Homo sapiens: one gene and its partners. The protein of the gene in region 4 interacts with the protein of the main gene of each other region in a biochemical or structural test. Each region holds a gene or a part of one and is shown on either strand. Other genes may lie near its edges. The genes, in order: LIMK2, LDB3, FRMPD3, VANGL1, TJP3, SIPA1L2 and ARHGEF11.

Region 1 (3,500 bases), on a different chromosome or scaffold from region 4:
ACCACCCCAATGTGCTCAAGTTCATTGGTGTGCTGTACAAGGATAAGAAGCTGAACCTCCTGACAGAGTACATTGAGGGGGGCACACTGAAGGACTTTCTGCGCAGTATGGTGAGCACACCACCCCATAGTCTCCAGGAGCCTTGGTGGGTTGTCAGACACCTATGCTATCACTACCCTAGGAGCTTAAAGGGCAGAGGGGCCCTGCTTTGCCTCCAAAGGACCATGCTGGGTGGGACTGAGCATACACAGGGAGGCTTCACTGGGAGACCACATTGACCCATGGGGCCTGGACCACGAGTGGGACAGGGCTCAACAGCCTCTGAAAATCATTCCCCATTCTGCAGGATCCGTTCCCCTGGCAGCAGAAGGTCAGGTTTGCCAAAGGAATCGCCTCCGGAATGGTGAGTCCCACCAACAAACCTGCCAGCAGGGCGAGAGTAGGGAGAGGTGTGAGAATTGTGGGCTTCACTGGAAGGTAGAGACCCCTTCCTATGCAACTTGTGTGGGCTGGGTCAGCAGCTATTCATTGAGTTTGTCTGTGTCACTGAAACTGACCCCAGCCAACTGTTCTCAGTTCACAGCCCTGTTTTCAAAGAATTACACATCTCTAAAGGCAAACAGGGCACGGACAAGGCAAACTGGAGAGGCAAACTGTAGCCTGAGATGGCCTGGGCTTGCCATCACAGGTATTCAGGTGCTGAGGGCCCTTAGACCAACTAGAGCACCTCACTGCCTAGGAAATCAATGAAGGGGAAATGAGTTCTAGCGGAGCCCTGAAGGATCAGAATTGGATAAAGTTCTTATTGGCAGAGAGGCACCAGGATTGAAGTGACAGGAGCAAAGACCTGGGAGGAAAGAGGAGAAAATCATCTATTTCACCTGGAAACAAATGATTCCAAGCATAGAAATAATAACAGCTGACAAGTACTGAGTGCCCTCTATATGCTAGGCACTGGGCTGAGGGATTAACATGCATGTGCATGTTTATTCCTCATGACAACCTTGGTTTCCAGATAAGCTGGACTGGAAAGGGACAGAGCTGGGATCCTGGGCTAATCAGTCTGGTCGCCAAGCCTGAGACTTTAGCCACTGCCCTTCACATGGGGGTCCATGAAAATAGTAGTAGTCTGGAACAGTTTGGGGGTACATCAAGGTCGCTGTGTTTTAAGCTATGGAGTCTGGACTATAGGAGACAAATGTAAAAGAGTTTTTTGGTTGACTGGCTTTTTGGTTTTTTTGTTTGTTTGTTTGTTTGTTTTTTTGTTTTTTTTTCCTGTTTCTGGGGCTTGAATCAGGAAGGAGGTTTTTTTGTTGTTGTTGTTTTGAGAAAGGATATTGCTCTGTTGCCCAGACTGGAGTGCAGTGGCACGATCATGGCTCACTACAGCTTCGACCTCCTGGGCTCAAGCAATCCTCCTGCCTTAGCCTCCCAAGTAGCTGGACTACAGGTGTGTACCACCACACCTAATTTTTTGAATTTTTTTTTCTTTTTTTTTTTTTTTTTTTTTGGTAGAGACAGGTTCTCACTTTGTTGCCCAGGCTGATCTCAAACTCCTGGGCTCAAGCATTCCTCCTGCCTCGCCCTCCCAAAGTGTTGGGATTACAGTTGTGAGCCACCATGCCCGGCAGGAAAAGATTTTTAAGCAAGAAAGCTTAAGAGCTGTGGTTTTTCCAAAATGAGTCTGGGCTGGCACAGTGGCTCATGCCTGTAATCCCAGCACTTTTTTGGGAGGCCGAGGTGAGTGGATCACTTGAGGTCAGGAGTTTGAGACCAGCCTGGCCAACTGGTGAAACCCTGTTTCTACTAAAGAAAAAAATGCAAAAATTAGCTGGGCGTGGTGGTGCACGCCTGTAGTCCCAGCTACTCAGGAGGCCGAGGCAGGAGAATAGCTTGAACCTGGGAGGCAGAAGTTGCAGTGAGCCAAGATCACACCACTGCATTCCAGCCTGGGTGACAGAGTGAGACTTCATCTCAAAAAAAAAAAAAAAGAGAGACTGATATGGTTAGTACATTGGGGTGGAATGCGGAGGGTCCAGGGAATGGAGCCCTGCATAGGGGGCTAATGAAACATTTCAAATTTCTGAATTAAGGTAGTGGCTGTGGGGACAGGAGCCTGGGAGGCCGGGTGGAGTCAGAATGGAGAGACTGGTTGGCAATGAGGGAACAGGAGGAGGAGGAGGAGGAGTTACGAGTGGCTTGAGGTGTCACTTACCAGACATTTGGGGGATGGGGGATAGCCATGATTGTTGAGCAACTGGTTTGGGAAGAGCTAGCATTGATCCCTGCTGTTCTGTGCTAGCAGAACCTATCAGCATCTTCTGGGCAGGAAACTGGCTCCATGAGACTGGCTTAGGGAGAGGCTGCTAGTCACCTAATCTGCAGAGAAGGGGCAGCTGGAGCTGTGGGACAGAAGAGGCATCCATGTAGCTGGTGGGGGTGTCTCAGCTTGTGAAGAGGAGATGGCTTTGAGCAGGGCTGACACTGAAAAGGCTGGAAGAAAAAAACAGACACACAAGAGTCTCAGGATCAGGTAGCATAGGAAAGTTGTGGACAGTCTTTGAGGAGCACTCCCTCAGGCAGGCAGGCAGGCAGGTCATGAGCTATAGCGATTCAGGAAGAGCTCCCTGGGTGTGTGAGCAGCTCCAGGAGCCTAAGGGATGAAAGTAGTATTGCAGGGGGCTGGAGAGCAAGGAGTGGCTCCTTCTACATTTGCAAGGGAAGGAGAAAGGAAGTTGCTCCTGAGAGTGGTAAGAGTCAGTGGTGGAGGCCTGGAGAGGAGACATAACAAACAAATTTGTTGACAAACATTTTGGTAGGAAGGGGGAGAGCTTAAAGTTTAGACAGTGGGGAAGGTGGAGTCTTAGAGGAGGTGAATGTCTGAAAGACAGAGCTAGCTGGAGCAAGAAGTCACTTCTCTGTTGCAGGCAGGAAGGATCCAAAGTGGCTCAAGCCAGAGATTGGGAGAGTGGGGAGGAGGGAGCAGCCTGGATCTAAGTAAAATGGGTAGAGGTGGAGGGGGTGCTGCAACGGCCAGGGTTTTCTGAAGTTGGGGACATTAGGAGAGAGCTGTGAGGGCTTTGGCCAGCCACTGTGCTAGTGATTGGTGAACCAAAGGATGGGCAGGAGATGGCAGCAGGGAAGCAGAGGAAGTCCAGGCTTCCTGTTGGTATTGGGACAAGGGAGAGGCCATAGGAGGCCCTGGCCCTGTTGTCCAGGTTGGGTTCTGAAGCTGGGTGGGCATGGCCTGGTAGGAGAGCATCTATGGCGCCCAATTCCAGATTCAGGGTCTAGTTGATTTGCTGGCCCTGTAGCCTCAGCTCATGCTTCTGTTCCAGGCCTATTTGCACTCTATGTGCATCATCCACCGGGATCTGAACTCGCACAACTGCCTCATCAAGTTGGTATGTCCCACTGCTCTGGGCCTGGCCTCCAGGGTCCTATCCTTCCTGGCTTCCTTGTCACAAAGGAGGCTGACTTGTCCCCTCTGGCTAGAGGGC
Region 2 (3,500 bases), on a different chromosome or scaffold from region 4:
CCAGCAGGATGCCTGGTGCCAGGAACTCCCCCTTGGGCTAAGGTTGAGGTCTGGGAATCACCAGGCTTGTCAGTAGGTTTACAGGGCATTTTGTTAGACAGTGTTGGTTTTGACCCAGTTTTCCTTTAGGGTTGTTTCTGGGTCTTTCCACAGACAGGCCTGGGCTGCTCAGGGGGTTGGTGGGCATCTGCCAGACTAAAATGAAAACAAGTGATTTCATACTTAGAAGCCATGGACCATGGGTGCTGTTGTTTGAATACAGTATGTTTGTGTGCATGTGTGGTGTGAGCTTATATACGTGAAAAATACACTTTTATTTAAAACTAAAGTAATACATACTCATTAGTGAAGAATTGGAAAACACAGAAAAGTAAAAATTAGAATATAAAAAAATGTCTTCATAGTCCCACTGTTCTGACTGCTAACCTGGAACTAGACAATACAAGTTTGTATCCTGGTCTACCACTTACTAGCCCTATGGCCTTAAACAAGTTGTTCAAACTCTGTGTGCCTCAATTCCCCTATCTAAAAATGGGTATTATAATAGTACCTAGTGCGTAGGATTGTTGTGAGAATTAAGCAAGTTAATAAATGCAAAAGTCTTCTTGAATAGAGCCTGACACAGAGTAATCACTTAATAAATGTTAGCCATCAGCATCATCATTATTGCATTTCTTACTATCATTATCAGTGGTCAACTGAATTCTATAATATGTTTACCCAGTCCCCTATTGGTAGATGTTTGAGTTGCTTCCTGATTTTCTTTATTGTAAGTGATGCAACAATGAACACCTTTCTGCATGGAGCTTTCTCTGAATTTCACATTACTTCATCAGAACAGTCACAAAAGTCAGAGTTATTGGGTAAAAGTATAAACAGTGTTGGGGTTCTTCAAATATCTAATTCCAAGTTCTGGGAGCTGCCTTACTGGGTGCCATTCTGTGCTTCCCCAGGGGCCCATTTCTGGTAGCCATGGGCCGTTCTTGGCACCCTGAAGAGTTCACCTGTGCCTACTGCAAGACTTCCCTGGCAGATGTGTGCTTTGTGGAAGAGCAGAACAACGTTTACTGTGAGCGATGTTATGAGCAATTCTTTGCCCCGCTGTGTGCCAAGTGCAACACCAAAATTATGGGGGTAAGTGGGAGGCCTCCATTTCCTCTGACCCATGTCTCTTCCCCAGCCCTTCCCCAAGATCGTGGGATCCCATTAGGAAGCCAAGAAGTTGCTGGTAACAGAGAAAGCAACTCCATTTTTATCCTAAAAGGGAATTGGTTTGCCACCAATAAACTTGGGGATAAATGAACTTGATGCAAGAGATGATTGTGTGCCTGTTCCACACAGCTTGAAGTGGTGGTGGAACTTCTGCAAAGCAAGTGGTTGCTTCACAGCCTGACCTTACCACTCACCAGAATGTGGCCTTAACCCTCAATGCCCCTTTGGTAAATGACAGTAATAAGCAGTACCTCCTCCCAGGTTTAATGGGAGGATTAAGCCTCACAGTTTATGTAAGAAAGCACAGAACCTGGCACCCAGCTGGAGAGTGACAACCCCTTCTCTGACACCCCTGGGTCTTTCTTCAGAGTGACCAAGGCCTGCATCCTGAGATCTCCTGCCCTGTTCCCTGGTAGGATGCTCGGGCAGTGGCTGGAGCCTGGTGGGGTAGTCAAGCCCGCTCCCTCTCTCCTTTCTGTCCTGAGCTTAGGCTCTTTCCCCCAGGAAGTAATGCATGCCTTGAGACAGACATGGCACACCACCTGCTTCGTCTGTGCGGCCTGCAAGAAGCCTTTTGGGAACAGCCTCTTCCACATGGAAGACGGGGAGCCCTACTGCGAGAAAGGTAGGAACACTTCGATGGCATGTGGGGAGGCCCCACAGCCTGGGAGAAAGGGGCAGGCACAGGGAACTAACTCCTGCCTAATCCATTCACATCCGACCACCCAGAGGCCTTTATTTCTGGAAGAAACCTTTGTTTTTGCTTTTAATGGCAGAATCATGCTAATATCACACAAAGGAAGTTAACTATCTCCCCTGCCCATATGGTTGCAGCTTTGGGGAGAGTGAGGTGCAGAGTCTATAGCTTATTTTATGCATCAAATATGTGGATCTGGTTAGGTGAGGTGGCTCACACCTTAATCCCAGCACTTTGGGAGGCCGAGACAGAAGAATTGCTTGAGCCCAGGAGTTTGACACCAGCAACATAGCAAGACCCAGTCTCTACAAAAAATATAAACATTAGCCAGGTGTGGTGGCGCGTGCCTGTAGTCTCAGCTACGCAGGAGGCTGAAGTGGGAGGGTCGCTTGAGTCCAGGAGTTCGAGGCTGCAGTAACCTGTGATAGCACCACTGTATTCAGCCTAGGCAACAGAGTAAGATCCTGTATCTCAAAAAAAAAAAAAAATGTAGATCACAAGTTGGCATCTTATGACCACTGGGAAACCTTTCAGGTTATTTTGATTTGGAGACCACAAGGTCTAGTCTGAAAAGGCCTTGGCTGTGGACTTTGTCCTTCATTCTATTCCTGGTTCCACTTTGGGCTGCTTTGTAAACCTGAGCAAGTTACTAACCTTCTCTGAGCCTTACTTTCCTCGTCTGTAAACACCTGCCTTACAGAGCTGTGGTGAGGATTAAACCAGAGAAGGCGTGTAGAGCATCAAATATGCGAGACCCCTTCCTCTGCCCCTGTGATATTTATCAGACTTTGATGTTCCTGCAGATTCCTGTAATCTCACGGAGTGAATTCAGAGTTTCTCTGTACCCCCAAAATGCTATATGTTATCTTAAAATGCTAAGTAAATTATTGTAAATTCAAGAGACAAAGCACTTCATTAGATAGGTGGAAGTCAGTCACTCATTTATTCAGAGGCTTCCCCCTTCAGAAAGGATTTGAAGCAGGTTCCAGAAAAGGTAACACAGACATGAAGGCTAAGACAGTAGAACCAGAAAATCAGAGGCGGGAAAAGCAGGCATGCTGATTATGAAGAATAACAGAGCTGCAGGGACTAACTGGGTAGCAAATTTGAGGGCAAAAAGAGAAACACAGTAAGTTAGTTTACTTTAAAATCAGAAAGGAGAAAACATTCAGTTCCTCAAGGGAAAAAGCAAAACAAAATAAAACTTCTTTCCCCTGACTGTAAATTAGAAAATAAACGTTTTGGCTGGGCGCGGTGGCTCACGCCTGTAATCCCAGCACTTTGAGAGGCCAAGGCAGGCGAATCACCTGAGGTCAGGAGTTCAAGACCAGCCTGGCCAAAATGGTGAAACCCCATCTCTACAAAAATACGAAAATTAGCCGAGCATGATGGCGGGCGTCTGTAATCCCAGCTACTCGGGAGGCTGAGGTTGAAGAATCGCTTGAACCCGGGAGGCAGAGGTTGCAGTGAGCTGAGATACTGCCGTTGCACTCCAGCCTGGGCAACACAGTAAGACTCCATCTGAAAAAAAAAAGAAAGAAAGAAAAGAAACGTCTTGGGTTCTTGTACTAGTGAATGCCCTTCCCAGCTC
Region 3 (3,500 bases), on a different chromosome or scaffold from region 4:
CCAGTTTGACAGAGTCAATATGCCAGTGTTGCCTTTCACTAGAGATTACATCTATGACAAAAGTACAGCACTGGCACCTAACAACAAAACTCCCAAATACAGGAAGAAAAAACTGACAGAATTGAAGGGAAAAATACACAATTCAACAACAGTAGTAGGAGACTTCAATACTCTACTTTCTTTCTTTTCTTTTCTTTTCTTTTTTTTTTTTTTTGAGACGGAGTCTCACTCCGTTGCCTGGGCTAGAGTCCAGTGGTGCGACCTCGGCTCACTGCAGCCTCTGCCTCCTGGGTTCAAGTGATTCTCCTGCCTCAGCCTCCCGAGTAGCCAGGATTACAGGCGCCTGCCACCACGCCCGACTAATTTTTTGTGTTTTTGGTAGAGGCGGGGTTTCACCATGTTGGCCAGGCTGGTCTCAAACTCCTGACCTCAAGTGATCCACCTGCCCTGGCCTCCCAAATGCAGGGATTACAGGCGTGACCCACCGCACCCGGCCAATACTCCACTTTCAATAATGGATAAAACAACTAAGCAGAATATCAACAAGGAAACAGAGGACCTGAACAATACTATAAATCAAACTAGACCTAACCGAAATCTATAGAACCATCTACTTAACAGCAGCAGAATATACATTATTCTTAAGTGCATATGGAACACTGTTGTGAATAAACCGTATGTTAGGATATAAAATAAGCCTTACTAGATTTAAAAGGAATAAAATCATACAAAATATATTTTCTGAGCACAACATAATTAAATTAGAAATCAGTAACAGAAGGGAGTCTGGGAAATTCACAAGTAGAAATCAAACAAAACACTTTTTTTTTTTTTTGATACAGGGTCTTGCTCTGTCACCTAGGTTGGAGTGTAGTGGTGCAATCTTGGCTCACTGCAACCTTCACCTCCTGGGCTGAAGTGATCCTCCCGCCTCAGCCTCCCAAGTAGCTGGGATTACAGACACCTGCCACCACGCCCAGCTAATTTTTGTATTTTTGGTAGACATGAGGTTTCACCATGTTGGCCAGGCTGGTCTCAAAATCCTGGCCTCAAGTGATCTGCCTGCCTCAGCCTCCCAAAATGCTGGGATTACAGGCATGAGCAACCGTGCCCAGCCAAAACACTCTTAAATAACCAGGCTGTCAAGGAAAAAAATCACAAGAGAAATTAGAAAATACTTTGAGATGAATAAAAATGAAAATACCACATACCAAAATTTATGGGATCTAGCTAAAGTCGTTTTTTTAAATTTTTTATTAATTTATTTTTTGAGATGGAGTTTTGCTCTTATTGCCCAGGGTGGAGTGCAATGGCACGAACTCAGCTCACTGCAACCTCCACCTCCCGGGTTCAAGCGATTCTCCTGCCTCAGCCTCCCAAGTAGCTGGGATTATAAGCATGTGCCACCATGTCTGGTTAATTTTGTATGTTTAGTAGAGATGGGGTTTCACCATGTTGGTCAGGCTGGTCTCGAACTCCTGACCTCAAGTAATCTGCCTACCTCAGCCTCCCAGAGTGCTGGGATTATAGGCGTGAGCCACCGCGCCCGGCCTAAAATAGTTCTTAAAGGGGAAATCTGTAGCTGAAAGTGCCTACGTTAAAAAAGAGGAAAGATTTCATATGAATTACCATAAACTTCCACTTCTACCTTAAGAAACCAGAAAAACAAGAGCAAACTAAGTAGAAAGAATGAATAAGACCTACTATTTGATAACGCAATAGGGTGACTACCGTCAATAATAACTTAATTGTACTTTTAAAAATAACTAAAAGAGCCAGAGTAATCAGACAAGAGAAATAAATAAAGGGCATCCAAACTGGTAAAGAGGAAGTCGAATTGTCACTGTTCACAGATGATATGATCATATACTTAGAAAATGCTGAAGACTCATCCAAAAAGCTCCTAGATCTGATAGATGAATTCATTAAAGTTTCAGGATACAAAATCAATGTACACAAATCAGTAGCACTGCTATACACCAACAGTGACCATGCTGAGAATCAAATCAAGAACTTCACCCTTCTTACAATAGCTGCAAAAAAAATAAAACACCAAGGAGGTGAAAGACCTCTACAAGGAAAACTACAAAACACTGCTGAAAGAAATCACAGATGACACAAACAAATGAAAACACAGCCTATGCTCATGGGTGTGTGCAATCAATATTGTGAAAATGACCATACTGCTAAAAGCGATCTGCAAATTCAACGCTATTCCCATCAAAATGCCATCATCATTTTTCACAGAACTAGAAAAAAAAATCCTAAAATTTATATGGAACCAAAAAAGAGCCCGCATAGCAAAAGCAATCCTAAGCAAAAGAACAAATCTGGAGGCATCACATTATCAGATTTCAAACTATACTACGAGGCATGGTACTGGTATAAAAATAGGTACATAGGCCAATGGAACAGAATAGAGAACCCAAAAATAAACCCAAATACTTACAACCAACTGATCTTCGACAGAGCAAACAAAAACATAAAGTGGGGAAAGGACACCCTTTTCAACAAATGGTGTTGGGACAACTGGCTAGCCCCATGTAGGAGAATGAAACTGGATCCTCATCTCTCACATTGCACAAAAATTAACTCAAGAGGGATTAAGGACTTAAATCTAAGACCTGAAACCATAAAAGTTCTAAAAGATAACATTGGAAAACCCCTACTAGACATTGGCTTACACAAGGATTTCATGACCAGGAACCCAAAAGCAAAAGCAATAAAAATAAAGATAAATAGTTGGGACTTAATTAAACTAAAGAGCTTTTGCACAGCAAAAGGTACAGTCAACAGAGTAAACAGACAACCCACAGAGTGGGAGAAAATCTTTGCAAACTATGCATCCAACAAAGGACTAATATCCAGAATCTACAAGGAGCTCAAACAAATCAGCAAGAAAAAAACAAACAATCCCACCAAGAAGTTGGCTAAGGACATGAATAGACAATTCTCAAAAGAAGGTATACAAATGGCCGAGCATAGGGAAAAATGTGCAACATCACTAATTATCAGGGAAATGCAAATCAAAATTACAATGCAATATCACCTTACTCCTACAAGAATTCACCATAATGGCTGGGCGCGATAGCACATGCCTGTAATCCCAGCACTTTGGGAAGCTGAGGTGGGCAGATCACAAGGTCAGGAGTTCGAGACCAGCCTGACCAACATGGTGAAACTCCGTCTCTACTAAAATACAAAAATTAGCCAGGCATGGTGGTGCATGCCCGTAATCCCAGCTACTCAAGAGGCTGAGCCAGGAGAATGGCTTGAACACGGAAGGTGGAGGTTGTGCCACTGCACTCCATCCTGGGTGACAGAACAAGACTCTGTCAAAAAAAAAAAAAAAAAAAAAGAATGGTCATAATTTAAAAATAAAAAAAAAATATGTGTTGGTGTGGATATGGTGAAAAGGAACACTTTTACACTGCTGGTGGGAATGTAAACTAGTACAACCACTATGGAAAACAGTATGGAGATTCCTTAAAAAACTAAAA
Region 4 (3,500 bases):
CCTGTTTCTGCACCTGTCCACCAGACAGCGGTGCACTGGTCTCTTTCCAAGTGACTGTGAGTGCCACAGGTGCTGAGATAGAGCTCTGAAGGCAGCCAGCCTGGTGTGTCCAGGGCTCTGCACACAGCAGATGTTTAACACAAAACTGCTGGTCATTCCCTGATGCAAAACATGGGAAAAGAAAGCCTTCTGAGATGAATATGCAGCAAAGCGGTGACCTACTTGTCTTCAGAGCCCTACAGGCATCTGTGAAGGACTCTAAACCCCAGATTTTTGGTGCACAGACATGTGACTTGGACACCAGTTTCCACCAAGGATCAGTTAGGGTGGCAGCAACCTTGAACGCTAGATCATCCCGTTCTCGTAGCACAAGCCAAGCCAGAGGAATGGAGGAGGGTACACACCAACATGAAGATGGTTTGGCAGCATGGCCTGACTCCAAATACAGGCTGAGCCACCTTCCTGGAGCCCAGCCAAATCTATGACAAAGCCGATTGTTCTGATACCCACTAAGGTGTGCCCTTGCTGATTCTGGCTGCTCTGCCAGCTACATGATCACAGCAGTAATAGCTGCAATGAACTAAGTGCCTACCCTGCCCCAAGCAGGCTACACACATCAGCATATACTGCCTAAGGAGGCAGAGAGCCTGGGAGAGGGTAAAGGCTTTGAAGTCAAATGTCCCAGGCTCTGCATTCACCCAGAGAACATCTCAGTGCAAGCCATGCTCCATGCCAGGCACTGAGGATGTAATGAGGTATAAGGGTGGCCCCTGGCCTCAGGGAGTTCATAGTCTGTGGAAGAAAACAGATGGAAAAATAGGCCACTAACCACAAAGTGAGAGATGCCATTATGGGGGCATTCACTCAGCCCTGGCCTCATGACATCTGAGTGAATCCTAAATGAGGCTAGCCATATGTTTTTGTGCAAATTACTTAAATCCCCTAAGCCCTAGTTTCTTCATCTGTGACACAGGGATTAATAATACCTAGGTCACGGGGTTCTATGAAGACTAAATACACAATCTATATATAAAGTGCTTACCTTGAAGCAAATAAAATGATGGTAATCACTCTTATTTAACCACAAAATAATGAGATTTTATGCAGAGATGTAAGTATGACAACCCAACTGACTTCTAACTTTTTCTCACGCATACATTTTCACAACACTCAAGGATTACACATTTGGAGTCTCTAACCTGCACTTGATTCTTTATTGGAGGGTCCCTCGGATGACCATATAATTTACTGCCCAAACCAGGCCTCTGAGAGTGGGAAAAAAGGAACAATTCATTATTCCACTGGGACAACATGGTAAACCAGATGTCACATTTGGGACAAAATGGAGCTGCTGGTCACTTTATCTGTTGTCCATTGGCCAATTTCAGAGTCAAAGAAGGCAGCCATCACTATGCATCTCCTTTCTCCATCATTTTTGGGAGCTGCCAATAACTTTGAGAACAAGCCCAGCAAAATCTCAACCTGGGTGAGAGCCAGCAACTGCCCCGCACCATCTAGAAGTCCAGAAACTCAATGAACATGGACACCCTCCCCACCCTCGCATCTCCTCCCCAAACCAGAAAAGAGTCAGACTCTGGTCCTAGCTCTTGGCATCTGTCACCACCCCTCACGTGCTACAGAGCAGCTGTCTCCCAGCAAGACATCAGCCATCCTTTCTGCCTCCTGGATGTTGCCTCTTACCTCAGGTGTCCCAGGCTGTAGAAGCGGGACTCGCCATCGGTGGAGCGGACCACCTGCAGCGTGAACATGGGCTGCAGCTGCCTGAGCTCCAGCAGGACGATGGCCAGGTAATGGATGAAGAGGAGGGCATCCACAAGGGAGACTGCATATTGCACAATGCCCTGGTAATTCCGGTCCCGAGAGTCCAAAATGCGGACCCCGTAAAAAAGCCAATAGGAAACCACAAAGAGAAAGATGAGGACCAACAAAAGGGCACGAAACACAAACACCCGTGGCATGTCAGCTCTCCGCTTGCGGAAAAAAAGTGCCCAGGTCCCTATGAGCAGAATGAGGAGTTTGAATGCCATGGAGATAAAGAGCCCCTCACAAATTGTGCCACAAGGCTCCAGCTCATCCCTCCACAGGATCGGAGGTAAAAGGATGAAGGCAATAGGGGTGAGGAAAACTAGAAGTCCAAGAAAAGAGGCGACGGTGAGGCCCAGGTAGCGTTTGCAATCCAGCCCCACGCTGTCCTCCATGTCCTTGCTGATCCTGGCAATGTCCTCTTGGGATATGCTGTGCTCCGAGGTGCCTGTGATGGCCGTGGTGGTCTCTCCCCAGTTGTCATCCTGGTGGGGAGAAGACAGTGAGGATGACATGACACAGGTCATTTGTAAAAGCTACAAAGGGCAGTGAACATGCAGGGCCCGCTGCATCTACCCAGCCCTATTCACAAAGGCTTCCAGAAAATGAAAGCTTAACTCTTTAAATATTAGAACTTCTTAACTCAAACGATTTTCATTGAAATTTTCAAAATGTATGAGGTATTTACCTTTTCAAACAGAGAAAACATAATGTGATCTTTCTGTCTGTTTGGCTGATTCATTGACATAACATTGATTATCATCCCCTGGGTTGAAAAGCCTTGAGCAGCTCTGAGGGCCTGGAGCTGTTTGCCCTGCAATGCGCAACCCAGGTATTAGACTAATCTTGTGAGAGCTCATCTATAGAGATAAACCTCCTGCATCTTCTTTCCAATTCACGCTGGGTTATAAAGGCTTACGAAGTCCAACTTTTGGAGGTGGGAGTATTACTACACCCTCTAGCAGCCCAGAAGAGCAAAGGGCGTAGCAAGGGAACTTACACCACTACACAAACCCAAGCTTACCTGTAGCTAGGACCCACATTTTAAAATCTCTTTATGGACTGGGGCGCGGTGGCTCACACCTGTAATCCCCGTACTTTGGAAGGCCGAGGCGGACGGATCAGGAGGTCAGGAGATCAAGAACATCCTGGCCAACATGGTGAAACCCCGTCTCTACTAAAAATACAAAAATTAGCAAGGCGTGGTGGCACATGCCTGTAATCCCAGCTACTCAGGAGGCTGAGGCAGGAGAATCGCTTGAACCCGGGAGTCGGAGGTTGCAGTGAGCTGAGATCGTGCCACTGTACTCCAGCCTGGGCTACAGAGTGAGACTCCGTCTCAAAAAAAAAAAAAAAAAATCTCCTTATGATGTTCACAAGATCCACTTAACAAGCATCAGTGTCAAGCACTCTTTAACAATATTTCTCATGGACCAAGCTAAGCAAATCCAGGAATCCGTGTATGGCCAGATTGGCTTAAAAATTCTTTCTAAAACATGTTTTCACGAGGAACTAAACATCAAGGGCATAGAAACAACCAGGATTATTAAAATGTTATCTTTTACTTTCTAGCTTCCTCTCTTTTTAAACTTCTAGGCCGTTGCTAGTTAAAGCAATTAGTCTATTCACTTAGCAAAACCCAGTTGATAGAATTTTAAAGGATTTTGTTGTTTAAA
Region 5 (3,500 bases), on a different chromosome or scaffold from region 4:
ACGGGGTTTCACCATGTTGGCCAGGCTGGTCTCAAACTCCTGAACTCAGGTGATCCGCCCACTTCAGCCTCGCAAAGTGCTGGGATGACGGGTGTGAGTCACTGTGCCTGGCCTGGTTTCTCCTCTCCACGTGCCCTCCCCCGCCAGAACCCAGCTGCCTGGATACTCACTGTAGCCTGCCCTCCGCCGGCCCTCCAGGTACCACGTCAGATACAACCATGGATCCACCGGGCCGGTCTCGGCCTCCAGAGATCGCAATGCCAAAGCCCCGGCGGGGGTCCTGAGAGAGGATGAGGGGAAGGAAGAGCTGCTGTTTCCCCCAGGGTAAAGGGTCTCCCCTCTATTGAGCTGGGCCTAAGCCGCCATACTCTCTGGCACCCAGACAGGGAGAGGGAGGCCTCACCTTGGACAGTGTGGCCGTGTGCTGTTCCCAGATGGTCAGCTCCTCCATGTCAGCCACCTGGTCGAGGGGAGCGGGGAAGATGGGCATGAGGCCACACAGGTTCATCTGAGCACTTGGGGGTCCCCAGCTCAGGGTGGGGAGTCCAGCTCTGACAGGCCTGTGTTTGGAGCCTGTGACAAGTTACTACCTCTCTCAGGGCCTCAGGTTTTTTTGTTTGTTTTTTTGTTTTGTTTCATTTTTTGAGACAGAGTCTGGCTCTGTCGCCCAGGCTGGAGTGCAGTGGCACGATCTCAGCTCACTGCAACCTCCACCTCCCGGGTTCAAGCGATTCTCCTGCCTCAGCCTCCCAGGTAGCTGGGATTACAGGGGTGCACCACCACACCTGGCTAATCTTTATATTTTTAATAGAGATAGGGTTTCACCACATTGGCCAGACTGGCCTTTAACTTCTGGCCTCAAGTGATCCACCCACCTCGGCCTCCCAAAGTGCTGGGATTACAGGGGTGAGTCACTGTGCCCAGCCTTGTTTTGTTTTTTTTGAGGCGGAGTCTCATTCTGTTGCCCAGGCTGGAGTGCAGTGGCACAATCTCTGCTCACTGCAGTCTCTGCCTCCCAAGTTCAAGTGATTCTCCTGCCTCAGCCTCCTGAGTAGCTGGCTGCCTACTGGCCTCCTGAGTAGCTGGGCTCCTGAGTAGCTGGGCACCTACAGGTGCCCACCACCACGCCAGGCTAATTTTTCTATTTTTAGTAGAGACGGGATTTCACCATGTTGGCCAGGCTGGTCTCAAACTCCTGACCTCAACTGATCCACCCACAGAGGGCAGAGATTTTTGTCTTTGTCCAAAACTGAGCCCTCAGTTCCCTGCCTAGAACAGCGCCTGAGTTGCAGCAGGGATTCAAGAAGGATTTGCTGAATGAATTAATGAGTGAATGAATGAAACACTTCCTTTGTGCCAGGTGCTTTACATGTACTATCTCTTTTTTTTTTTTTTTTTTTGAGACAGAGTTTCGCTCTTGTTGCCCAGGCTGGAGTGCAATGGCGTGATCTTGGCTCACTGCAACCTCCGCCTTCCAGGTTCAAGTGATTCTCCTGCCTCAGCATCCCAAGTATCTGGGACTACAGGCATGTGCCACCATGCCCAGCTAATTTTTTTGAATTTTTAGTAGAGACGGGGTTTCACTATGTTGGCCAGGCTGGTCTCGAACTCCTGATCTTGTGATCCACCCCCTTGGCCTTCCAAAGTGCTGGGATTACAGGCATGAGCCACCGCGCCCAGCCTTACATGTACTATCTCATTTAATACATTCATCAAAGGTGCATTCAATTATCCCCATGTTACAGATGAGGAAACTGAGGCACAGAGCCATGAAGTCCCCCCTCCCACACTTTTTTTTTTTTAGACAGGGTCTCTGTCACTCAGGCTGGAGTGCAGTGGTGTGATCACGGTTCAATGCAGCCTCGAACTCCCAGGCTCAAGTGATCCTCCCACCTCTGCCTCCCAAGTAACTGGGACCACAGGCACACATCACGATGCCCGGCTAATTTTTTTTATTGTTTGTAGAGATGGAGTCTCTCTGTGTTGCCAAGGCTGGTCTCAAACTCCTAGGCTCAAGTGATTCTCCAGCCTTGGCCTCCCAAAGTGCTGGGATTACAAGTGTGAGCCATTATGGCTCACTGCAGCCTCGAACTCCTGGCTTCAAGCAATCCTCCTGCCCCAGCCTCCTGAGTAACTGGGACTATAGGTGCATACCATCATGCCCAGCTAATTTTTTAACTTCTATTTTTATAGAGACAGGAGGGTCTTGCTGTGTTGCCCAGACTCTTCTTGAACTCCTGGGCTCAAATGATCCTCCCACCTGGGCTTTCCCACTTAGAAAAAAAAAAAACAAAAAAAACTCTGTTGCTGAGGCTGGAGTGCAATGGTGCCAACTTGGCTCACTGCAACCTCTGCCTCCTAGTTTCAAGCGATTCTCCTGCCTCAGCCTCCCAAGTAGCTGGGATCACAGGTGTCTACCACCATGCCCAGCTAATTTTTGTATTTTTAATAGAGACGGGGGTCTCACCATGTTGGCCAGGCTGATCTTGAACTCCTGACTTCAAGTGATCCGCCCGCCTTGGCCTCCCAAAGTGCTGGGATTACAGGCGTGAGCCTCCACACCAGGCAGATTCTGTTATTTTCATGTCCATGGCATGAATGAGAACACCAGACTCAGGTGCAAGGTCACCTGGCCACGCCTCCACCCTCCCTTCCCTCCTGCCAGCACGCACCATGCCCTGCTCCCCAGGCAGGGGACAGGTGGAGGGAGTGGGGAGGGAGTTTGTAGAAGTGACTCCTCCTCCTCCCCGGGGCGGGTTTTCTAGGCTTGGCACAGCGGGTGTGTGATTCCCTCTGCCCAGGCACCCCCCATTGGTGCGCTCCAGTGCCTTTTCTTATAAGCTCCAGCGTCTCTAGCGAGGCCAGCATTCCTGATCTCCAGGAGTGGGAAGGCGGGTGGAGGGGAGAGAAACAGAGCAGAGGGCAGGGCTCTGCAGTTCTGAAGGAGCCAGGGCAGCGCTCAGGACTGGACTCAAATCCCAAGTCTGCCCACCCGTGCTAGCTATGGCGGGGCCTCTCCCAGCCTCAGTCTCCCCATCTGTGAAATGGCACTGCTGCCCTGTCTTGCAGGGATGTGGTTTGGGAAAAGGGTACAGATTCAATGCCTGAAAAGCAAAAAGCAGAAGGAGCCTTGGGGAGGTGGTGGCCAAATAATGACTTTCTCCTTGTGTAGTTTTTTTTTTTTTTTTTGAGATGGGGTTTTTTGCTCTTGTTGCCCAGGCTGGAGTGCAATGGCGTAGTCTCGGCTCACTGCAACCTCCACCTCCTGGGTTCAAGTTATTCTCCTGACTCAGCCTCCCGAGTAGCTGGGATTATAGGCACCCACAACCACAGCCAGCTACTTTTTGTATTTTTAGTAGAGACGGGGTTTCACCATGTTGGTCAGGCTGTCTTGAACCTGGCTGCAAGCAGGCGCTTGATGTGGACCCATTCATTTCATCCTCAGAGTGACCTTAGGAAGTGGCACAGTTATTATTCCTACTTTAGAGGTGAGATTAAAA
Region 6 (3,500 bases), about 120 Mb from region 4:
CCTGTGCCAGCAGAATGGCTCTAGCAAAACAACGTTCCCGAAGGCTCAGACAATGATTTAGCCACTTTTCACTTCACTCCTGAGTCACCACGGAGGCCCAGCTTCATCCTCCCATCTGGTTTTAACCTCTCTTTACCCAAATATTACTCACTTTGCCTCCTAGAACTATTCTGGTCTGGGTGGCATAAAGTAGGGCACAGAACCGTTTTAGAACTCCTGAGTAACCCACTAGGTGCACAACTTCTTAACAAGTTAAGGATTTCGTCACCAAGCGGGGGAGACCTCACGTGTCAACACACAGTGTCTGGGCTCTGCCACACAGTTCCAGCACTGGCCCCACTGTTGGTGGCAGTGTGCAGTGCCAAGCAGGTCCAGAAGGAGGCAAAGCCTGCTGCTCTGCTACAATGGAAACCAGACTCACTGATGCTCACATGACTGACCGTGGTCAAGCACAACTAGAATCCCTATCTAAGGGACCCTTTGTCACAGCCTGTTTCACAAATGCAAAGCTCAAAGCAGCAGCAAATGGCACATTCACAATGAGTCCCATCAGAGAAACAGTAATGTGACAAACGGCACCAATGTGTCTTCATGGTTATCGCCCGTGAAAGGAAGGGACTTATTGGGCATTCACTCTACTTGCTACTATCCTCACTGCTTTTAAAAAAGCTGTTTTGGCTGGGTGCGGTGGCTCACGCCTGTAATCCCAGCACTCTGGGAGGCTGAGGTGGGTGGATCACCTGAAGACAGGCGTTCGAGACCAGCCTGGCCAACACGGCGAAACCCCATCTCTACTAAAAATACAAAAATTAGCCGGGCGTGGTGGCACATGTCTGTAATCCCAGCTACTTGGGAGGCTGAGGCAGGAGAATTGCTTGAACCCGGGAGGCAGAGGTTGCAGTGAGCCAAGATTGCGCCACTGCACGCCAGCCTGGGCAACAGAGCGAGACTCTGTCTTCAAGAAAAAAGAAAAGCTATTTCACTGAAAGCTACAGATGGATTTGCCTGGGCAAGCGATGTTGTCACACAGTTTCCTGTGTCCTGCCACTCCCCTGCAGAAATCCTTTCACAAAGTTATTCAACAGCCTTTCAGTGATGATGTGTCACAGAAATACACCTCAGCATCAAAAGCAGACATTTCACATTAACTACCCAATAAAGAAGAAATCACATTATTAAAGTATCGCACTTTAAACATTTGCCATGATTGGGAGCCAGTTAATTCTCTTGAAAATGAAGTTTTACACAGAACCCTGAAGCACAGAACAAAATAAAAGCACTCTGGAAAGTATTGAAAGATAGATCCCTGAAAGTCAGTTTCCAAAGAGAAAATCCTTGAGAGAAGGGAAAAGCAAAAAAGGGAAAGAAAAAAGCTATCTCAAAAACATCGTTATCTGTGCCAGTCTGCCCAGGCCCTCTGTTTTTAAATACAATGAAGCTCACCCAACTCATGATGTTTGCAGACAGAAGGGTCTTGCACAACTGTGTCCAGTGGCTGAAGCGGGAATGGGAATCTACTCCCACACCATAGGAGGCCTCCACCTCACTGTACTTTTCACTTAAGAATCTGGGCTGCTGCCTCTGCCTGGAGTCCTTAATGGCTCAACAAGAGACCAGCAAGAGCAGGAGCAGATGCCATTGTAACCAATTTCACTTTGAAGTCACACTGGACCACAGGGGAAGAGCTAAATATAGGAGGAGGCAGGACACAGTTCACAGCTGCGCTGGAGAGAGAACAGAGCAGCCGGGGCTCGGCCTTCTTCTCGCTCCTGGTGGCCGCTCCTTCCCCAGCCCGAGCCCATCTGCAGGCACAACAGCACCTTCCACAGCACAGAATCACAGAACACTGAAGACAAAGTGACCTCACGGATTGCCTCCCCACTCCCTCATTTTGTGGGCTTTGCAAAGCACAGTCATGTACCGCATAGGGATATTTCGGTCAACAATGGACCACATACATGACGGTGGTCCCATAAAATCATGATGGAGCATATACAGAAATCTGATGCATGGCACTTGATATTGGCAGTGCAGATGAATAAGGGGAAATGTCTGATATTCAGTAATGGTGCTGGGACATTTGGTTTTCAATATGAAAATATATATATATATATGAATAAAGATATATATCTAGGATTGTGTAAGTATACTCTATGATGTTCACGCAATGACGAAATTGCCTAATAACACATTTCTCAGACCATATCCCTGTTGTTAACTGATGCGTGACTATAGTCTAGAATTCTGCTTTCTGACTCGTTTATAAATCCACTGCAAAGCTCAGAACCAGAGAGTGTGCCCAACAGCACCAAAATGCCAAACGATAAGCGTACATCCACCCACAATTCACTGACAGGGTGTCTACACTCAGATTCTTCTTTGGAGCTTATTTATTTCACATTCAAACCTAAGCAGTTTGATGATGTCATTTGCAATGCTCTTGAAAAACTAAGTAGCTCATCAGAAAAGGTGGAGGAAATAAATCACTTGCAGAGGAGTCTTTAAAACTACCAAGAAGTGACAGTTGAGAATTCAAGAGAAAAACTACAAGTAGCAGTCAAGAAAACTAACAGAATCTAGCAACCTAAAATCATCTCGGGGAACAGACCCTGGGGACATTAATGAATCAAATGGTGGTGACCGGGGTGCACAAAACAACAGTTTTTCATTCCACTTACACTCAGACATGTGCAACAGCATATGAATGAGACGCTGGCACTAAGTTTTGGCATAAATATGAACATATATATAATTTTATGTTCTAGTATTTCAAAGTCTGAATCACAAACTATTTACAAAACTCAGCTAGCCAGAATGACTAATTACCTGGGGATTTCAGGGCATAATAAATCCAACAGACTTTATTTTATTAAGAATTGGCAGCCATGGCTTCATCAATAAAAATAACCTTAATTAGGAAGCCTATCTCTCCATCTCCCTTTCCAAAAATAACTAACTTCCACCTAGAGAGCATCCTTGAGCAGTGTGATATAATGTGATACCTCTGCATGAACACGGGCATGAGGGTTATGAGTTATTTTCACAGCAGAGACAAAAAAGCAGGTCCAGGATTCTTTGATTCCACTGGCTGGAAGGAAGTAACTATGGTGTTAACACTGAGGCACACCTGAAGCCAAGACCGAAATTCAGGGTGGAGGAGAGGAAAGGAGACACAACAGGGGACCAAGATCTGTTGACAAAACTATTTCAGTCCTATTATGTCATCAGTATGAGGACAGAGAGACAATTCACACTAAGTGACCAGATGCAGTGTAAATATCTGTTTATTTAGCTTTATTGCATCAGATCATTTCTCTGATTCATGTTGTCATAATGTGATTACAAAAGACATGCTAAGTCTGGATTGATGCAAAAACAGGAGGGGGAATTATTAATAATCACAATTTATCTGGCAGACAAATTCTTTTAAGTCTATACTCCATGAGAAAAAGTAATAAACAGGCTTCACAGTGGTTTAACGTTATAAGGGACTGAAGTGG
Region 7 (3,403 bases), about 41 Mb from region 4:
TGGTTACAGTCTTGGTGATGTGGCTGCGTCTGTGGGAGGATGTGGATGGATGATGACAGTGATGAACTGGCCAGGCCTGAGGCAACCCTCCCACTTAGATTTGGCTTTTAAAGTCTTCAAGCTCATTGAGGGCAGCTCATGAGACCTCTTGACTCTGGGTCCACTGCTCCTTTATATACACATATATGTGTATATATATGTGTGTGTGTGTGTATATCTATATATGTGTGTATATATATGTATCTATATATATATCTGTGTGTGTGTAACTGAGTTCAGTGTCTTGTCATGTTTTCTCCATGGGGGTTGTACAACTTAAGTTTGCCCAGTCCCTAGTTCAGTGAGTGCACAGCTGAAGCTCTGGGAGGGAACAGGCAAGATCTGGGTCTGGGGGTGAGAGGGCTCCCTCTGGTTCCCACTATCCAATCCTAACCAGTCTTACAGGGAACAAACACCGTACCTTTTATCACAGCGATTCCAAGAAACACACACACCACCACTGAAGGATATTTAACTTTTCTTAAAAAAAAAATCTTAACCATGAAAGGAAGAAAATAAAAGAGTATACATTATCTTAACAGCAGAACAGTCATTTCCATATCTATATTTTATATATTATATATATATTTATATATATATATATGTATATATACACCTAGCACAGTGTGTATATTCTATTCATCAGGGAGAGTTGGGTGAGGACGTGGTGATGGGGCCAATGCTGCGGTGGCCCCTTGGATGGTCCTGGGTGAATTCAGGGACTCGGCATTCAGACCCCTGTCCCCACCTCCTGGGGCCCAGTCCTCAGCTCCGTACCTGCTTCACTGGTTTTCTACAGGGACAGGGTGGGGAAGAGGGGGACATAGGTGGGGTAAGAAACCCCCATGATCCCCATCTTGTGAAGATGAGAAGTCCAGGGAGGGAGGGAGTAGCTTGGCAGCAAGCTGTGGAGGGCAGGCTCTGGAGCCAGGTGGGATGGGGAGCCAGAAGACCTTCCCACTCACAGGGACAGGAACACTCAGGCCTGGCTCCCGCTTTAGGCTCGATCCTGGAACTGGGTTGTTAACTAAGGAGATACAAGTGAAACCCCTCTTCCCTAAGCAGCTCCTTCCATAACTGCCTCCAGCACTTCAGGAACAGGAACAAAAAAGGTCAAAGTTATTTACAATAGCAAAGATGCACATACGATACATACATATTTATAGGAAACCAAAGTGACAAAGAGGGGAGGGGAGGCACCCACCTCTGCCTGGGGTCTTATGGAGAAAGAGGGGAGGAAGAAAGTGCATTTACACAGAAGCCTCCTCCTTTCACTTGCATGTCTGAGGGCAGCGCACATACAGGCGTGCGCGTGTACACACATATGTGGGGTGAGGGCAGACCATGGTGAGTGGGGGCCTTTCGGATGCAGTCAGCATGCTTAGGAGACATGAGGCCTTGGAGGGTTGGGCTAAGGGAGGGAAAAGACACTGAAACCTGACTCCGACTTGAGCAGACCAAGCAACATGCGGGTCTCCCCCCGGGCCTTGGCTGGATCCTAGTTTCCCTAACTGCCTCCTCCACAGGGAGGAGTGTTGGGATCCCCCCTACCCTGTGCCCCGGTCTCAGGCCAGTCCCTGAAGGAGGAGTGGGGACGCAGAGGATTTGGTGGTTTGTACGGTTATGGTCCTGGTGACGCGGCTGCGTCTGCTGTGCTGTCTTCCAGGGGGGCGTCAGAGCCTGTGGGAGGAGGATGAAGGTGAGGAACTGGCCAGCCTGAGGTGACCGCTTCCACATGTTTTGTCTAGAAAGTTCAGGCTCACGAGAACAGATCCTTCATCACCTTCCTTCTCCTCCAGAAACCCCAGTTTCTCGTAGGGCTTGAAAAGGGCTGTCTACTGAACTCCACTTTCATCAGCGCCTAAAGCCCTTAGGTCAGGTAGGTATGTGCCTTGTCTTCCTGAGTTATGACATAGCTGTGTCCCTGGCCCACCCAGTGTGGTTCTGAATCATTTAATCAGCACGAGTCTTAGGCCGACACCATGGTGTGCACCTGCAATCCCAGCTGCTTTGGAGGCTGAGGTGGGTGGATCACTTCGGCCCAGGAGTTTGAGACCAGCCTGGGCAACATAGCCAGGCCAGCCCTTGTCTCAAATAAATAGAAAAAAAAAAAAAAAAAATATATATATATATATATATATATATATAAAATTAAAAAAAGAACAAGTCTTAGAGGTGAGAACAGGCTCCTCCTGGTTTGTTACCTCCATAGCACAAGGAAAAAGAGGGCTCAGTGCTAAGCTCCCCATTTTGCCAGGGAGCTTCTGTGGGACTTCCCTAAAAAGATCCCTCTCTGAAGCTGAGAGAATGAACTCGTTTCACTCAAGGGGAAACCACTCTCAGAACCACCATCTCTCACTGCTTAGTGATGTGTCCTCACGAGTTGGCAGACTTCTCCCCCAATGGTAGGAACCGAGAGGGACCTGGCTTCACTCACCATCCTCAGGGCAGGGCCCCAGTTCATGGCTGTTCCTGGAGTCAGAAGCTAGGGGCTCCTTAGCGGGAGGTGAGAGGGAGCCATCTGTCCATCTAGCTGCTTCTGTGTGGAAACTGCCCACAGGCGTGGTGCCACCAGATGACTCTCCCCCAAGGGACTTGAGCAGCTCTCTGTGGGCCAGCTCCATATCCTGGAAGAGTCGGCGGGGGAATGTCTGCTCGAGTCCTTCTATTCCTAAGGCCCCTGGGGAAGGGGTCTGTGCTGGGCCTTGGGGAGGAGGGTGTGATTTAAGGGTGGCTGGGCGGGCTGGGGGAAGATCCCTGGGCCAGGACAGGATCTAGGGCTCCCGCGAAGACACACATCTCACTCATGGGGAATGGTTTTGGGGTGATGGACTGAAGGCCTGCAGGGACCCAAGCCCTGCTTCCCTCACCTTGAGCCTGTTGAGCTTGAGAGTGAGCTGCTCAATGGTATGGAAGATCATGCCCACGTCCCTGAGGGCCAGGCTTGGAGGAGAGCGGCTGGGGCGTCTTGGATCATCGTTGCCTCCCTGCAGCTGAGGCTGAGGCTCTGTCTGCCCTGCAGGGAGGCTGTCAGGCTGAGGGGGGCTCATGGGTGCCTCTGAGTGGTCGGTGCTTGAGTCCGGGGGTCCTGATGGCATGCTGACATAAAAGCAGTTCCCTGTCCCCACAGTAAGAGAATGAGATCAGGAGGCAAACAGAGAAGTCGAAGCTATCCTCCCGTTCCTGTGGGATTCCCCAGCCACCTGACAGAGCAGGCCAGGCAGTCCTCTCCAGACAAACTCAGAGAACGTGGGCCTTGCTCACTGTCTGCCAGCCCCCTAAAAGCCCTGCTCCCGAGACCTTCTAGATGACACTTGCTCAGTCTGGCCCCAAGCTGGGGGAGATGCTGAGCGATGAACTCAAG

What was found.
Region 1: the proteins of VANGL1 (region 4) and LIMK2 interact in a test that uses a peptide from one of them, tested with the Homo sapiens proteins (one large-scale study listed by IntAct).
Region 2: the proteins of VANGL1 (region 4) and LDB3 interact in a test that uses a peptide from one of them, tested with the Homo sapiens proteins (one large-scale study listed by IntAct).
Region 3: the proteins of VANGL1 (region 4) and FRMPD3 interact in a test that uses a peptide from one of them, tested with the Homo sapiens proteins (one large-scale study listed by IntAct).
Region 5: the proteins of VANGL1 (region 4) and TJP3 interact in a test that uses a peptide from one of them, tested with the Homo sapiens proteins (one large-scale study listed by IntAct).
Region 6: the proteins of VANGL1 (region 4) and SIPA1L2 interact in a test that uses a peptide from one of them, tested with the Homo sapiens proteins (one large-scale study listed by IntAct).
Region 7: the proteins of VANGL1 (region 4) and ARHGEF11 interact in a test that uses a peptide from one of them, tested with the Homo sapiens proteins (one large-scale study listed by IntAct).

Annotation. Positions count from the first base shown.
Region 1 is NC_000022.11:31,267,798-31,271,297, forward strand, and holds part of LIMK2 (LIM domain kinase 2), read left to right. Parts: coding exon 1-110; intron 111-346; coding exon 347-403; intron 404-3,338; coding exon 3,339-3,404; intron 3,405-3,500. UniProt on the Homo sapiens protein: Serine/threonine-protein kinase that plays an essential role in the regulation of actin filament dynamics. Acts downstream of several Rho family GTPase signal transduction pathways.
Region 2 is NC_000010.11:86,717,011-86,720,510, forward strand, and holds part of LDB3 (LIM domain-binding protein 3), read left to right. Parts: intron 1-953; coding exon 954-1,134; intron 1,135-1,716; coding exon 1,717-1,837; intron 1,838-3,500. UniProt on the Homo sapiens protein: May function as an adapter in striated muscle to couple protein kinase C-mediated signaling via its LIM domains to the cytoskeleton.
Region 3 is NC_000023.11:107,592,652-107,596,151, reverse strand, and holds part of FRMPD3 (FERM and PDZ domain-containing protein 3), read right to left. Parts: intron 1-3,500.
Region 4 is NC_000001.11:115,662,470-115,665,969, reverse strand, and holds part of VANGL1 (vang-like protein 1), read right to left. Parts: intron 2,310-3,500; coding exon 1,702-2,309; intron 1-1,701.
Region 5 is NC_000019.10:3,725,384-3,728,883, reverse strand, and holds part of TJP3 (tight junction protein ZO-3), read right to left. Parts: intron 461-3,500; coding exon of another isoform or gene 452-460; coding exon 404-451; intron 281-403; coding exon 171-280; intron 1-170. UniProt on the Homo sapiens protein: TJP1, TJP2, and TJP3 are closely related scaffolding proteins that link tight junction (TJ) transmembrane proteins such as claudins, junctional adhesion molecules, and occludin to the actin cytoskeleton.
Region 6 is NC_000001.11:232,508,134-232,511,633, forward strand, and holds part of SIPA1L2 (signal-induced proliferation-associated 1-like protein 2), read right to left. Parts: intron 1-3,500.
Region 7 is NC_000001.11:156,934,340-156,937,742, forward strand, and holds the end of ARHGEF11 (rho guanine nucleotide exchange factor 11), read right to left. Parts: intron 3,158-3,403; coding exon 2,910-3,157; intron 2,667-2,909; coding exon 2,477-2,666; intron 1,906-2,476; exon of another isoform or gene 1,792-1,905; intron 1,720-1,791; coding exon 1,661-1,719; 3' UTR 501-1,660; downstream 1-500. UniProt on the Homo sapiens protein: May play a role in the regulation of RhoA GTPase by guanine nucleotide-binding alpha-12 (GNA12) and alpha-13 (GNA13). Acts as guanine nucleotide exchange factor (GEF) for RhoA GTPase and may act as GTPase-activating protein (GAP) for GNA12 and GNA13.